Linked DNA regions of Homo sapiens: regions 1 and 3 are each linked to region 2. The links come from fine-mapping of genetic effects on gene expression. A gene starts in region 2. Each other region holds a variant in brackets. All regions are shown on one strand. Distances are from middle to middle.

Region 1 (5,000 bases), 120 kb after region 2:
TACTGACTTTTTTTTTTTTTTTTAAGACACAGTCTCACTTTGTTGCCCAGGCTGGAGTGCAGAGGCACGATCTTAGCTCACTGCAATTTCCGCCTCCCAGGCTCAAGCAATTCTCCTGCCTCACCCTCCCAAATAGCTGAGATTACAGGCGCCCGCCACCACACCTGGCTGATTTTTATATTTTTAGTAGAGATGGGGTTTCACTATGTTGGCGAGGCTGGTCTCGAATTCCTGACCTCAGGTGATCCGCCTGCCTTGGCCTCCCAAAGTGCTGAGATTACAGGCGTGAACCACCATGCCCAGCCCCTAACTACTTATTACATATAGTAACAGACAATGCTCTAAGCACCTGACAATCCTAACAGTATCATGAAATATAGTGTTATTAAACCCATTTTTACAAATAGGAAAATAAGGCACAAAGGGGTTAAACAATTTGTCCAAAGTTGGCTGGACGCTGTGGCTCATGCCTGTAATCCCAGCACTTTGGGAGGGAGAGGCAGGCGGATCATGAGGTCAGGAGTTTGAGACCAGCCTAGCCAACATGGCGAAACCCCATCTCTACTAAAGATAAAAAAAATTAGCTGGGCGTGGTGGCACGCACCTGTAATCTCAGCTACTCGGGAGGCTGAGGCAGGAGAATCACTCAAACCTGGGAGGCGGAGGTTGCAGTGAGCCAAGATAGCGCCATCGCACTCCAGCCTGGGCAACAGAGCAAGAGTCTGTCTCAGAAAAGAAAAAAAAAAAAAAAAAATTGTCCAAAGTCACAGAGTTAGTAAGAGGCAAAGCCAGAATATACAGTCTCGGGTCTGGACTTGCTGATAACCACTATGCTCTACACTTTCACATCTGTATTTCCCATCACAAATACTAGCTCTATCACAAAAATCTCTGTTTATACTTTGGTAATTTGTGATGTTGACTATTATTTACTGATACTATTTTCAAGAATGTCATTGGATAGAAATACAAACATGCAACTGAGTAAAAAGCAGGACACAAGAAATCAACACAGACAGAAATTACACCTCTACAAAAAGTGTACATATAAACTCTGCCAGGTGCCTGGAGCACAAAGATGGACAAAGTGAGTCCAGTCCCTGCCCTGAGAACCTTGGTCCAGTGGGCTCAGGGTGACGCTCATCAGGCAAACCGGAAACACAGGGAGGACGTGTGTGGGTGCTGCAGATGCCCAGGCAGCAATCCAGAACCCACTATGCTAAAGCCACTGAACATAGGCAAAAAGTTTTATTTAACATATCTATTTTACCTTAAGATTTAAGGATAACATCTTTCTGGACATGGCAGGCATCTATCTCAAGCTCCACACAGCCAAAATAAAACTCCTTATTCTCACAACCCTTTAAACTTACTCCTTTCTCAAGCAGTATTTTCTATCTTAAAGGAAAGGCAAGCCTGGCTGCTGAAGCAATAAATCTGTTATCCTCAATTCCAGCTATCTCCCTCCCTCCCTCCTTCCTTCCTCTCTCTCTCTCACACACACTTACATGTGCATGCACGCAAGCACTCACTCCCTCACATGCACACATTCACACGCACACATACACACACTCTCCATCCGATCTATTTACTGCTTTTCAACTGGATCTTTCTCTTCTTCAGGTCCTCAAGTCAGGCCTACAACAATTTGTTTCCTAACTACTCTTCCTGTTTATTTTTAATCTCCCTTACTGCACCAACTATCTCTCTTCCAATAATTCTGGCTCTAGAATTATCTTTCTATCATACAAACCTGACTCTATCACTCCACTTTTTAAAAACATTTGGTGGTTTCTGGCTGGGCATGGCAGCTCACAACTGTAATCCCAGCACTTTGGGAGGCCAAGGCAGACAGATCACCTGAGGTCAGGAGTTCAAGACCAGCCTGGACAACATGGTGAAACCCCATCTCTAATAAAAATACAAAAATTAGCCAGGCATGGTGGCGCACACCTGTAGTCCCAGCTCCTCGGGAGGCTGAGGCAGAAGAATCGCTTGAACCTAGGAGGCGAAGGTTGCAGTGAGCC[G/A]AGATCACACCACTGCACTCCAGCCTGGGCGACAGAGTGAGACTCCATCTCAAAATAAACAAATAAATAAAGTAAATAACAACAATAAAAACATTTGGTGGTTTCTGATCATCTCTACAGGATCAAGTCTAACTCTGTTATGGCACACACACACACACACACACACACACAGACACACACAGCTCTTCACAATGGGGTCCAACAGGACCTTCCACATCATATCTTTCTTCATTCAACAAATATTTATTTAGCACCAACTATGTGTCAATCACTGGGCTAAACGGCAGTGGTATAATGGGAAACAAAAAGAGAGAGCTCCTGCTCTCATGAAGCTCACAGTCTAGGACAAGAAACAGAAATCAACCAGTCACACAAACAAATGTTTAAGATTACAACTAAGACAATTACTGCAAAGAACCTCCAAATAAAATAATCTGAAATTAGACAGTGGCAATAGTTGTCTCGTGCATATACTGAAAACCAATGAACTGTACACATTAAAAGGTGAATTTTATAGCACATGAATTATACCATATCCCCCTCCCCAGAAAAAGACACGGCAGGGTGAGCACCTCTGATGGTGGAGTTGGCTAAGGCAGAGACGGTGAAAACTTTCCAGAGGAAATAACAGAGCTTACAAATAACATATTTACTGAGCATTTACTACATGCCAGGCAACTTTCACCGTACTAATGCATCTGATCCTCCTACCAACAATGTAAAGTTACTATTATGCTCAACTCAGAGGTAAGTGAGGGGTCAAGTAACTTTAAGGTCAGAGAGCCCACAAATGGCAATGCCAGCATCCATATTTAAGCAGAATAAAGTGAGGGTCTGCACTCTTACCTGCTACAGTAAAGTCACCTAGGCAATGACTATTACTCAGAACTACTTACGATGCAATAAACACAGACCACTGTGTTTCATTTCTTTTTCTTTTTTTCTTTGAGACAGAGTCTTGCTTTGTCACCCAGGCTGGAGAGCAGTGGTGCAATCTCGGCTCACCGCAACCTCTGCTCACCGCAATCTCTGCCTCCCAGGTTCAAGCGATTCTCCTGCCTCAGCCTCCCAAGTAGCTGTGATTACAGGCACGTGCCACCACACCCAGCTAATTTTTTGTATTTTTAGTAGAGACGGGATTTCACCGTGTTAGCCAGGATGGTCTTGATCTCCTAACCTTGTGATCTGCCCACCTCAGCCTCCCAAAGTGCTGGGATTACAGGCGTGAGCCACAGCACCCAGCCCACTGTGTTTCATTTCTGATAAAAGAAATCTCTCGCCGGGCACAGTGGCTCACGCCTGTTAACCCCAGCACTTTGGGGGGTTGAGGCAGGCAGATCACCTGACGTTGGGAGTTTGAGACCAGCCTGACCAACATGGAGAAACCCCATCTCCACTAAAAATACAAAATTAGCCGGGCGTGGTGGTGCATGCCTGTAATCCCAGCTACTCGAGAGGCTGAGTCAGAAGAACCCCTTGAACCTGGGAGGTGGAGGTTGTGGTGACCCAAGATCATGCCACTGCACTCCAACCTGGGCAACAAGAGCAAAACTCTGCCTCAAAAAAAAAAAAAAAATCTTTCTATCTCCTTTGTCATTACAATAGCCTCTAAGGCCCTACAAGATCAATCCTACACTACTCTCTCCATCACCTGACTTCACCTCCTCCACTTTCCCCCTTACTCACTCTGCTCCAGCCACACAGGCCTACTTTTGTTTCTCCAGCATGCTGGGCATGCTCCTACCACATGGCGTTTGCATTTTCTTGAGCTATGATAATTACAATCACAACATGTGGCATAAATCATGATTCTGCTAAAACCTCAGTTAACATTTTCTCTAAACACATCAATAATGCCACTAACAAGATCTTGTACTGAACTGTACACTAATATTTCAAATGTCATAAATTTTAATAAAAACTACCTAAATTTTCCAGTTTTATATTGTTCTATATGATATCACCAAAGATTCTTATTTTACAAAATCCAGTAACAGCAGCTTTTGCTTACCAATTAGTCTGAACAACAGTCATATAGCTATCTCTGCAGTGAAATAAAGCAAAGCAATCAAGCCAAGAAAGTGTCACAATAGAATCTGATTACCACCATTCCTCTGTTTAGCCCTAGAACCACAGTTTGTGAAATAACTATGACAACAGCATTTCAAGGCACCAAAATCCCACCACACTTTTGCTGAGAAAGTATTCTCCATCTGTGCAAACACATACAAACGCATGTTGACAACCAGTTATATAACTTCAATACAATAACCCAGTGATATTTTAAGTTCTTATTTTGCTAAAAATCCTAAGAAACTGTTAATCCTAAAACCGTTCAGAGTAGGATGCTGAGAAAGGAATGAAGAAAATACATTTAACACATTTACATTTAAAACTGAGTTGTCCCTAAACTCCAGGTGGAAAAAACTACCTCTTTTTGGCAGGGCGCAGTGGCTCACGCCTGTAATTCCAGCACTTTGGGAGGCCGAGGTGGGCAGATCATTTGAGGTCAGGAGTTTGAGACCAGCTTGGCCAACATGGTGAAACCCTGTCTCTCCTAAAAATACAAAAATATTAGCTGGGTGTGGAAGCACATGCCTGTAAACCCAGCTGCTTTGGAGGATGAGGCAGGAAAATTGCTTGAACCTGGGAGGTGGAGGTTGCAGTAAGCCGAGATGGCACCCCTGCACCCCAGCCTGGGCAACAGAAGGAGACTTCCTCTCAAAAAAAAAAAGAAAGAAAGAAAAGAAAAGAACATTATTGTGTATTTTGAAACAGGAGAGCCACTGAAATGTTCCCAACACATGGAAATGGTAAGTGCTAGAAGCAATGGATATCCCAAATACCCTGACTTGATCATTACACATTCTATGCATGTAACAAAATATCACATATACCTCAGAAACATATATAAACATATTAATTAAAAATTTTTTTTGCCAGCAGCAGTGGCTCACGCCTGTAATCCCAACG
Region 2 (6,244 bases):
CACCTGCCGCATCCCAGACACTGGCCTGGGAGCTCCACAGACAGCCCGGCACATGCCTCTGTCCTCTCGCCGCTGTGAGGGGCAGGGGTGTGACCAGCCCATCTCTCTACACCGGGGTGAAGGCCACACACAGGGAGCAGCCCACAGCAGGCAAGGGGCTGGCCCAAGACAGACCTGTATGTCTTCCTGCAGCACCCGAGCTGAGCAATGACTTCAGGGGGAGAGCTGATGTCACGTGCTGCTAGGTGAGTACGGACGGTCACACCAGAGCTGTTAGGCTCACACACCAGACTCTGGAAATGCCGTGGTTACTGCCTGGAGCTGCTCTGAGCCTTCCGAGGTGGACTCACTCCTCTGCCTTGGGCCCTGGGACCTGCTGTGTAGCTTTGAAGTGATTCACAGCACTTACATAGTCTGATGTTTTGGGGTGACCTGACCCCCCTGCAAGAGTGTGATGTCTTATCAGACCACATATGTGAGGACTTGAGTGAACTCCGCAACCTTGGGAATGCCACTTAAACCTTGTCAGACACTCCCTTATGTGAGTTACTGACCCTGACTGCTGGACTGCAAAAACAGACATCAGCTTGAAGGTTGTGCAGATGCTTTGAGGCAAGCTATACGCTGCTGGCCTGGGAGCTGGACCTCGGTCCCAGCTTCTCAGAGAGCTCCCGCTCTCACGCTCTCCACTGCTACCAAGGCAAACCTCGAACTCTCACCAGATCTCACTCTCCAGGGGCCCGCTCCATCCCAGCAGAGCAACCGGACCCTGGCCGTTCTGCCACTCACCTCCCTGCCGTGAATGCACCCCATCCATGGAGGCCCTGCTTCCCTGCCAGGTGTCTTCACCTCCTCCCCTCTCCTCCCCTCTGAGCACTGTGAACCCGAGAACAAATCTTCTTTGACAATAAACCGTGTGATTCGTGGAATCATACTTTGATCATCTCCTTATTTCCTCCACACACAAGGACCCCTGCACTGCCAATGGCCCCAGGAGAGGGCAGAGTCAGCCACAGGGACCCCACCTCACAGGCTTCAACACTGCTGATGCCTGTCATCCCAGCACCGTGGGAGGCCAAGGCGGCCAAGGTCGCCTGAGCCCAGGAGTTCAAGACCAGCCTGGGCAACACAGCAAGACCTACTCTCTACCGAAAAAAAAAAAAAAAAAGAAAAATAGCTGGCCAGTGTAGTGGCGCTTGCGGTCCCAGCTACTTGAGAGCCTGGGAGGTCGAGGTTGTGCCTAGCTGTGAAGACGCCACTGCACTCCACCCCGGATGACAGAGCCAGACTGTCTCAAAAAAAACAATAAAAATTCACGCCTTGTAATAAGGAATTAAAGGCAGGATGAACAAACATTTTCTTCTTTTTTTTGTGTGCTTTCTGAGATGGAGTCTTTTTCTGTAGCCCAGGCTGGAGTGCAGTAATGTGATCTCGGCTCACTGCAACCTCCGCCTCCCGGGTCCTGGTTCAAACAATTCTCCTGCCTCAGCCTCCCAAGCAGCTGGGATTACAGGCACGTGCCACCACACCCAGCTAATTTTTGTATTTTTAGTAGAGACGGGGTTTCACCATGTTGGCCAGGCTGGTCTTGAACTCCTGACCTCGTGATCCGCCCGCCTCGGCCTCCCAAAGTGCTCGGATTACAGGCGTGAGCCACCGCGCCCGGCCTAAAGGATTTTCTTTCCAAATCAAAGTATTAAAATAACTGTTCAGACCTCTCCCACTTCGATGCGAAGCCAGCGCGGTCCCAGGCGGACGAGCGAAGGCATCGAAGGCCGGGGGCGCAGCCGCGGGCCCACCTCGGCCTCCCCTGAGCGGACGCCTCCCCGCGCGCACCGGGGGCCCCGGAGACCGCCTTCCCCGCTCCGAACGCACGCGGCCCGGCCCCGGCGAGGTGCCTGAACGCTACCCGAGCTGCGGCGGGGCTCCCGGGGTGAGTGCTGCAGCCCCAGGCCCGCCTGCTCCCACAGGCTCGGGCAATGGAGACCCGCGGCCGCCCCCGCCCCTTGACCCTGCCTCACCCCTCACGCCCGCTGCCGCCCACGACCTCCGACCCCGCTGCCGCCCGGCTCGCAGCCCGGCTCGCAGCCCGGCTCGGCGGGCCTCACCTCCCGCGGGTTCCGCACTCCTCTTCCCGCCGTCCTGCTCCTCTCGGCCTTCTCCTCCAATAGGCGCCTAGCACCCTGAGTGGGCTACACCAATCAGAGACGAAGCGGCGCTAACGTGACTGACTAACTAACCAATCCAAAGTCTCAATCTCCCTGAGAGGGGCGGAGCGTACCCGGGCCAGCCCTCGCCGCCGATTGGTGATCGACCTCAGGGTTGCAGGGGCGGTGCCCTTACACGGATTGGAGAGGGCAGCGATGGGGCGGAGTTCAAGCTCCGATTAGTCCGCGCTCCGTGGCGGGCTTGGCGATTGGACGCCGGCGCTGTCAGCCGCGCGCGGACCGGGGCGGGGCGGGCGGTGCCCCGGGCTGGGCGAGGGGCCGGGTGCGGGGCCGCTGGCCGAGAGGCTGAGGCGGCGTCATGTCCTCCGAGGTGTCCGCGCGCCGCGACGCCAAGAAGCTGGTGCGCTCCCCGAGCGGCCTGCGCATGGTGCCCGAACACCGCGCCTTCGGAAGCCCGTTCGGCCTGGAGGAGCCGCAGTGGGTCCCGGACAAGGAGGTGGGTGGCCGTCGCCCCGGCCAGCGCCTCCGACCCGCCCCGCCGCCCCGGCCCGGCCCCGCGGGCTTCCAGGCTCCCGCGACGACCCCTCCGCCTCCGGGCGGCCCCTTCCCCAGCCGGCCCCCGCCCCCGCTCTCTCCCAGGTTGGCCGCGTCCCCGGGCCGCCGCCTCAGGCTCCTACGCCCGCGGGGAGGGCGGGAGGCGCGCGGTGTCCCGGTGCGGGGGTCCCGGGAGGGCAGGAGGCACCTGTCCAGGGCGGGCGCCGGGAGGCGGGGTGCGGGGCGCGGGCTGGTCCCGGGGGTGGGTGCGGCCCTGCCCGAGGCCGGTTCGTGCTGGGCTAGCGCGTGTGGACTGCGTCCCGAGAGCTGGGGCTCGCTCCCGAGAAAGTGGAAGGCGGAGCGCCTTCCTCGCAGGCTCGGTGGGGAGGGCGCGTGCTGTCCGCGGAAGCGCTGGAGCTGGCGGCCCCGCAGGGGTCCCTCCCGGGAACCGGGGGAGGCGTCGGTGCCGCGGGCGGGTGGCCGGTTCCGAAGCCACCTCCTGCTCGGAAGGAGGGCCAGGACCCAGTCTGCGGGCCAGGCTGCCCCCCGTTTCCCTTCGTCTATACCACCCTCCACCTCGGAAGCGAGGTCGCAGTCGCCCACTGGACAGTTTGAAGGAGACCGCAGATTTGCACCCGTTTCCCATGGGCCCAGACACGGCAGGAGTTGCCCAGGCCACTCCTGCAGACATTGGGGCGTGGGCGTGGGGTCCCTGAGCCAGGCCATCCGCTGGGCCTCCCGTGGGGTTCCCTGTGACCTGATCGGAGGTGCCTTTGCCTCACACCAGCCCCTTGGCCAACTGGGAAGGCCCCGAGTGCATTTAATCCCACTGGCTGTGCGCTAACAGGTGTGTCCAGTTTCTGTTCTGTGGATTTTACCACGATAAAAAAAAAATTGGGGGAGAAAAAGAATTTTTGTAATATGACTTTCATACTTAACACGTGTTACAGATTCGTTTAATTCCCTCAGTGATAGAACTAAGCAGACGTTGGAACTAGGTTCAAGAAGTCAAAGTAGCACTAATTGACTGGGTTCATTGAAGCTTGGTTGGAGGCCTGGTGGGGGGTGAGCGGCCACAGAGCCTCGGGGACAGGACGGAATTCGAGTGACTCTGGGGAAGTGTCTCTGGCATCTACAGTGTACGGAGCCATCACCGGTCACTGAGCGTGTCCTGGAGAGTTGAGACCAGTGCTGCCCACCTCTCCCCAGTATCGCCACCATGAGGAGTCTTTTTAGACACTTTCCGCCAATCATCCTCCTTCATCTTTTTTAAAATTTACTTTTAAGTTGACACGTGAAAATTGTATTTATGGTGTAACGAACTCTTAATAGCACAGAAATACTCTACGTCTGTATGAACCGTAAGGAGCACGTGAGAAAGTGTGGCCAAGATGAGGCAGAGGTTTCCACCAAAGCACAATTTCTTTCTCCCTGCTGTACACATGCACTGATCTTACGGTTCTGTTTTATAGTGAACCACTGTGTTCCCCTCCTTCATTCTCTCTTCCAGAGCCCTTCTGGTATCAGCTGAATTGTTTAGCATTTTTCCCTGCCTTTCTTTGTGGCCTCTGCTGAGGCACTGTGTGGCAGTCCCGCGGTGACTTCCGACTGAGTGGAGTTGAAACACTTGAGTCAAGGTGGCACCCCTCGTGGAAGAGAAGATTCATTCCCACGCTGGCGTGGTGGCAGGATACCCCTCCAGAGCCCCCCACCATGTTTGGATGATTAACTGGGATCTGAGCAGCTGAGGGAGGTCCTAGCATTGGGTGGGCTTGGGGGACAGAGAAACCATTCTAATAAGATGGACTTTGTCTCTGAGTTTTGCGTTGTGAATTGTATTGGAGCATGGTCTTACAGGCCAGAAACGACCAAAGACAGTGTTCTGGAGGAACTTAGAACGGGGCAGTAAGGGCTGGAAGATTTGGAATAAAGTCCAGCTTTAGGTGCAATAGCTCGAGGGGACATGTACGGTAACAGTCGCCTGGCATGTGGTGATGCTGAAGGGGACACTGAGCTACACTGTGCTGGCTGCGTGCTTGGGGCCGCTAAGGTGATTGTCGGGAGGTGACTCAAATGTGCAGATAACCAGTTGTGGGAAATAGGTTTATTTGAGGTGGTTTGGAATGGGGAGAGGAGAATTTGGTAGAACTTGGCAGGTGGGTAACATTGTCCTTGGCTTGGTGGCCGTGTGCCGATCGGCATCATCGTCATATCTGTAAACGTGTTGGTCCATTTTCATTCCAGCTCTGTTCTTAGCCAGGGGAGTCTGAATCCAGCCCAGTGCCCGTCTCCCGAATACCAGCTGCCTGACCGGGCTGGTTTATCAGTTTGGGCCCATGAGGGTTATCCCTTTAAAATGCTGCAAAACCCCCTGGGGAGCATGTGCACACATGCACCTTTCTCCGAGAGGTGGCCTGCAGCTCTCAGATTCTCAAGGCTCTGACGCAGAACCAGTTGAGAATCGTTTCTCCAGTCTGTGCCTCCTCAGGAACCTGTGGGGCAGGGGAGGCAGAGGCGGCGTGTAAAGCTTCGTGCGACACCACTTTGGATAGAGGTGCTTTGGGGGTGTGAAGGAAGCTTCAGATGATCTCTGGGGCTTGTCTGACTCTGCCATCAAATATCCGACACTGACGCAAGGCAGTGGGCTTGGGGGTGGGCGGTCCGGGCGTGCAGCCATCTGGGCTTGTCACAAGCAGCTGAGATCCTGAGTTTTATCCTTAAAATCCTTGCCGCTGTGCACCCCTCCCACCTCCCATCCGTGGTGCTGGCAGAAGAATGACCGCAGCTCCATGCTGGCGGGTTGACACTTTGATGGATACTCTAGATTCAGAGCCAGGAAGGAGAGAGCACGTGCGCGTCTGATCACGAGCCTGGACTCGGATGAGGAGAGATCTGAAGTGAGGACTGTTGCTAGAGGCGTCTGGAGCTGTGCAGCGGGGAGAACAGGGGACCCTGAGTTCTGCGAGGGTCTCACAGGCCAGGCCGGACAGGGCTTTTCTTTTGCAGGGAGGAGTGGCCAAGGCTAGAAAGAATCAAGCTGGGGAGGTGGGATGGGCCAGTGGAGGGTCAGGACCTCCAGCAGATCAGAGAGCTGAGGCCAGAATACAAAAATTAGCTGGGCGTGGTGATGAGTGCCTGTAATTCCAGCTACTTGGGAGGCTGAGACAGGAGAATCACTTGAACCCAGGAAGTGGAGGTTGCAGTGAGCTGAGATCGTGCAGCTGCACTCCAGCCTGGGCGACCAAGCGAGACTCCGTCTCAAAATAAATAAATAAATAATAAAAATTCAAAAATTAGTCGGGCGTGGTGGTGTGTGCCTGTATCCCAGCTCAGGAGGCTGAGGCAGGAGAATCACTTGAACCGGGAAGAGGAGGTTGCAATGAGCCAAGATTGTGCCACTGCACTTCAGCCTGGGTGACAGAGCAAGACTCTGTCTCAAAAAAAAAAAAAAAAAAGTCCAGGTAAGGGAATTGTGTTCCAGTTGATCATGAGGAGAAATGGCCAGTGTTTTCTGAGGCAGAGAATGGGAATTTGGAGGGCCT
Region 3 (5,000 bases), 76 kb after region 2:
GATACAGAGTGAGACCCTGTCTCAAAAAAAAAAAAAAAGAAATGAAAACATGTCCACACAAACTTTTGTCCATGAATGTTCACAGGAGATTTATTCATAAGAACCAAAAACGTAAACAATCTGCTATGGTCTGAATGTTTGTGTTCCCCTAAAATTCATATGTTGAAACTGAATCCCCAATGTGGTAATATTAGGAGGTGGGGTCTTTGAGAAGCGATTAGGTCATGAGAGCTCTATCTTCATAAATGGGTTTAGTGCCCCTACAAAAGAGGCCCAAGACATGGTGGCCCACGGCTGTAATCCCAGCACTTTGGGAGGCCAAGGCAGGTGGATCGCTTGAGCTCAGGAGTTTGAGGTCAGCCTGGGCAACATGGCAAAACCCCATCTTTACTAAAAGTGCAGAAAACTAGCCTGGGAGGTGGAGGTTGCAGTGAGCCAAGATGGTACCACTGCACTCCAGCCTGCGTGACAGAATGAGACCTTGTCTCAAAAGTAAACAGGCTGAGCGTGGGTGGCTCACGCCTGTGATCCCAGCACTTTGGGAAGCCAAGGCAAGCGGATCACTTGAGGTCAGGAGTTGGAGACCAGCCTGGTAAACATGGCGAAACCTCATCTCTACAAGAAATACACAAAAATTAGCCGGGTGTGATGGCGTGCCTGTAATACAGCTATAAACTTGTGTTTATACTTAAGATTTATAACTCTAAATCTTCAGTGCAACCAAAGAATTTGATGTCAAGACAAGAGATAAAACTTTGTGAGCTACACAATCTAAGCACAGATTCAAGGTATAAGTGATTGTAATTTACTGTTCCATTCCTAGGTAAGTTCTAGATTTGCATAAAGAAAATCCTGCCATTCATAGAAATATAATGCACATTATGCTGCTGACTTTTTTCTTCTTTTTTTTTTTTTAAGAGATGGGGTCTCACTCTGCCACCCAGGCTAAAGTGCAGTGATATGATCATAGCTCACTGTAGCCTTGAACTTCCGGGCTCAAGGGATCCTCCTGCCTCAGCCTACTGTAGCTGGGACTACAGGCGCAAACAATCACGCCTGGCTCTAGCTTTGTCTTATTTAACAAACATCAAAGGCAAAAACAGAAACGGTCTCATCTTAGTTGAAAATGAAATCTGTCTGTGCTTAGCTCAAGTTCATATCAGAACTAAGTATCTGTAGAGCAAAAAACAATGACAAGTTAAACATTAAAGAAGTAAATTTCAGCCGGGAGCAGTGGCTCACGCCTATAATCCCAGCACTTTGGGAGGCCAAGGCGGGCAGATCATGGGGTCAGGAATTCGAGACCAGCCTGGCCAACATGGTGAAATCCCGTCTCTACTAAAAATACAAAACTTAGCCAGGCGTGGTGGCACACGCCTATAATCCCAGCTACTCGGGAGGCTGAGGTGGAGAATAGCTTGAACCCACGAGGTGGAGGTTGTAGTGAGCCGAGATCCTGCCAGGGCACTCCAGCCTGGGACAGAGCAAGACTCCATCTCAAAACAAACAAACAAACAAAATATATATATAGAAGTAAATTTCATTCCATATTTTTAGTTTTGAAAGTAGCATTTTTTTATATACACATATGCCTATAAAAAGATTTTTAAAAGCAAGTGTATTGGCCTTTTCTAACTGCAAGGCCTATATTTAGCTAAATCATGTTTCTCAGTTTTGCATAAAATTGTGTCTTAGGCCACATTTTTATTCACATTGCTTAGGCTTATCATTTAGTAGCTTTATTTTTAGTTGTTTTACTAATCAACATTGTCAGTAAATTTTCATTTTTTTACATTAAAATCAACTTTTAAACTTTTACATTTATTAAAATCAATTTACAACCTATATTTAAATATACCAAGTCTGAACATAACCTAATAAAAATTAAAACCCATTTTGTCTTAAGCCAGTTATTTAACAGAAATTTATTGTTTCCCTCTATTCATCGTGTGTGTGTGTGTGTGTGTGTGTGTGTGTGTATATTTTTTTAAAGACAGGGTC[G/A]CACTCTGTCCTCTGTCACCCAGGCTGGAGCACTGAAGTGCAGTGGTGTGATCAAGCGATCGTCCCACCTCAACCTCTCTAGTAGCTGGGACTACAGGCATGTGCCACCACGCCCAGCTAATTTTTGTATTTTTTGTAGAGATGGGGTTTGGCCACATTGCCAAGGTTGGTCTCGAAGTTCTGGGCTCAAGCAATCTGCCAGCCTTGGCCTCAAGTGCTGGGATTACAGGTGTGAGCTACTGCACCTGGCAAAATTTTGAGAAGATTAATTTCAAGAAAGCTTCGCTATATTTTTTTAAGGAAGTTTAACTGAACATAATTTTCGTTTTAAAGTAGAAAAAACACAACCCGATCAACATGACAAGACCCTGTCTCTACAAAAAATAAATAAATAAAAGGATTGTCTGGGCACTGTGCAGTTTGCCTGTGCTCCCAGCTACTTGTGAGGCTGAGATGGAAGGATCCCTTGAGCCCAGGAGTTTAAGGCTGCAGTGAGCTATGATCATACCACTTCACTCCAACCTGGGCAACTGAGCAAGACTCTGTCTCAAAAAAAAGAAAAAGAGGCTGGGTGCAGTGGCTCATGCCTGTAATCCCAGCACTTTGGGAGGCCGAGGCAGGTGGATCACGAGGTCAGGAGTTCGAGACCAGCCTGGCCAATATGGTGAAACCTCGTCTCTACTAAAAAATGCAAAAAATTAGCCGGGCATGGTGGCGCATGCCTGTAGTCCCAGCTACTCAGGGAGGCTGAGGCAGGAGAATCACTGGAACCTGGGAGGCAGAGGTTGCAGTCAACTGAGAATGCGCCACTGCACTCCAGCTTGGGCGACAGGGCGAGACTCTGTCATAGAAAAGGGGAAGGGAAGGAAGGGGAGGGGAGGGAAGGGGAGGGAAGGCAATGGGAGGGGAGGGGAGGGGAGGGAAAGGAGGGGAAGGGAAGAGAAGGGAGAGAAGGGAAGAAAAGGGAAGAGAAGTGAGGAAAGGAAAGAAAAGGAAAGAAAAGGAAAAAACACTACTGATCTGGTTAGGTTTTATGTCCCCACCCAAATCTCATCTTGAATTGTAATCCCCATAATCCCCACATGTCAAGGGAGAGACCAGATGGAGGTCACTGAATCATGGAGGTGGTTTCTCATGATAGTGAGTGAGTTCTCATGAAAACTGATGGTTTTAGAAGGGGCTCTTCCCCCTTCACTTGACATTTCTCCTTCCTGCCACCTTGTGGAGGAGCTGCCTTGCTTTCCCTTCACCTTCTGTCATGATTGTAAGTTTCCTGAGGCCTCCCCAGCCTTGCAGAACTGTGAGTAAATTAAACCTTTTTCCTTTATAAATCATTCCATCTCTGGCAGTTCTTTATAGCAGTATGAAAATGGACTAACTACCCTATACATATCATGTAATATAAAATATACCTAATTAGCATCTTGTATAATGGAAATCTATTATAAGACTTTTAGGAACTTTAAATAAGGTTAAAAAACCTCAAGTAGGAAACTTAACAAAAGATAAAAATGGAAGGTTTTATCTACCTTACTGACTGCCATTAGAACTGACACCTGTGTGGGGAAGGGAACCACACAGAGTAGCTAATGACCTGGCCAAATTAACAGACTGTTACAGGCTGAACTGTGTCCCCGCTAAATTCATCTGTTGTAGTCCTGACCTCAAGTACCTCGAAATTTAACTGTATTTGGAGACAGGACTTTTAAAGAGGCAAGAAGATAAAATGAAGAGATCAAAGTGGCCCCTAATCCAATATGACTAGTGTCCTTACAAGAGGGGGAGGTTTGTCCACAGACAGGCATGGAGGGAAGAAAAGAAAACCATCTACAAGTCAAAGAGAGAGAGAGTCTTCAGAATAAACCAAGCCTGCTGACACCTTCATCTCAGACTTCTGGCCTCCATCACTGTGAGAAAATAAATTACTGTTGTTTAAGCCACCCAGTCTGTGGCACTTTGTTACGGCAGCCTCAGCAAAATAATGCACAGATCCACAGTGAAACGGCTCTACTGGAAAGCACTGATAATTACTATTGAAGGATTCTATCTACGACATACTGATCATACTAATGTCAGCAGTTATGGGGGCAGTAATTTGTTTTTTGTTTTTTTTTTTTTTTGAGATGAAGTTTCACTCTTGTTGCCCAGGCTGGAGTGCAGTGGCACAATCTCGGCTCACTGCAACCTCCGCCTCCCAGGTTCAAGCGATTCTCCTGCCTCAGCCTCCCGAGTAGCAGGGATTACAGGTGCCCACCACCATGCCCAGCTAATTTTTTGTTTTTTTAGTAGAGACAGGGTTTCACCATGTTGGCCAGGCTGGTCTCAAACTCCTGACCTCAGGTGATCCACCCACCTCGGCCTCCCAAAGTGTTGAGATTACAAGAGTGAGCCACAGTGCCCGGCCAGGTGCAGTAAGTTTTATGTGAGGGTTCTCTGAAACCTAAAAAAAAAAAAATCTCTGTAAGGGTTCCTCTAGGTAAAAGGACTGAGAAAGGCTGTTACAGTGCTTGCCCTCTCCCTTTGATGGCATCCACTGGAAGTTACCTTCTCTTCTTCCTAGATCCAGCTTCGTTGGCCATTTTACTTACTAATCTGTGTTTACTAAGTGCCTTCTATGAACACTAGGCTGGACACTGGGGATATAATGGTGAACAACAGACAAGTTCCCGCCTTCAGGAATTTTAGTCCAACAAGATAGAGATAAAAACTACTACTACATTATGTTTGTTTGTTTTTTTTTGAGACAGTCTCGCTCTGTCGCCCAGGCTGGAGTGCAGTGGCACACTCTTGGCTCACTGCAACCTCCGCCTCCGGGTTTCAAGGGATTCTCCTGCCTCCCAAGAAGCTGGGACTATAGGCGTGTGCCACCATGCCTGGCTAATTTTTGTATTTTTAGTAGAGATGGGGTTTTGACGTGCTGGCCAGGCTGGTCTCCAACTCCTGGCTTCAAGTGATCCACCCGCCTTGGCCTCCTAAAGGGCTGGGATTAGAGGCAAGAG

What was found. PIP is the estimated chance that this variant, and not a neighbour inherited with it, causes the effect.
Region 1: its variant is the best candidate, but not a certain one, in a credible set for the expression of ZFYVE21 in whole blood (INTERVAL, PIP 0.72).
Region 3: its variant is the best candidate, but not a certain one, in a credible set for the expression of ZFYVE21 in whole blood (INTERVAL, PIP 0.63).

Annotation. Positions count from the first base shown.
Region 1 is chr14:103,836,041-103,841,040 of GRCh38, forward strand. The region is part of intron 1 of PPP1R13B (protein phosphatase 1 regulatory subunit 13B); the gene reads right to left. Among named protein-coding and RNA genes, the nearest start is that of PPP1R13B, 9.0 kb to the right of the region's middle. The variant G/A (reference allele first, on the strand shown) is at 2,028.
Region 2 is chr14:103,713,316-103,719,559 of GRCh38, forward strand. ZFYVE21 (zinc finger FYVE-type containing 21) reads left to right here and starts at 2,495. Exons shown (of 7, transcript NM_024071.4): 1 at 2,495-2,664. The coding sequence starts at 2,527. XRCC3 (X-ray repair cross complementing 3) reads right to left here and starts at 2,136. Exons shown (of 10, transcript NM_005432.4): 1 at 2,109-2,136. RefSeq lists enhancers at 937-1,622, 4,859-5,369 and silencers at 1,819-2,078, 2,159-2,728, 2,919-2,998, 3,099-3,168, 3,229-3,308.
Region 3 is chr14:103,790,223-103,795,222 of GRCh38, forward strand. All of the region lies in intron 2 of PPP1R13B (protein phosphatase 1 regulatory subunit 13B), which reads right to left. Among named protein-coding and RNA genes, the nearest start is that of PPP1R13B, 55 kb to the right of the region's middle. RefSeq lists enhancers at 4,426-4,927, 4,928-5,000. The variant G/A (reference allele first, on the strand shown) is at 2,002.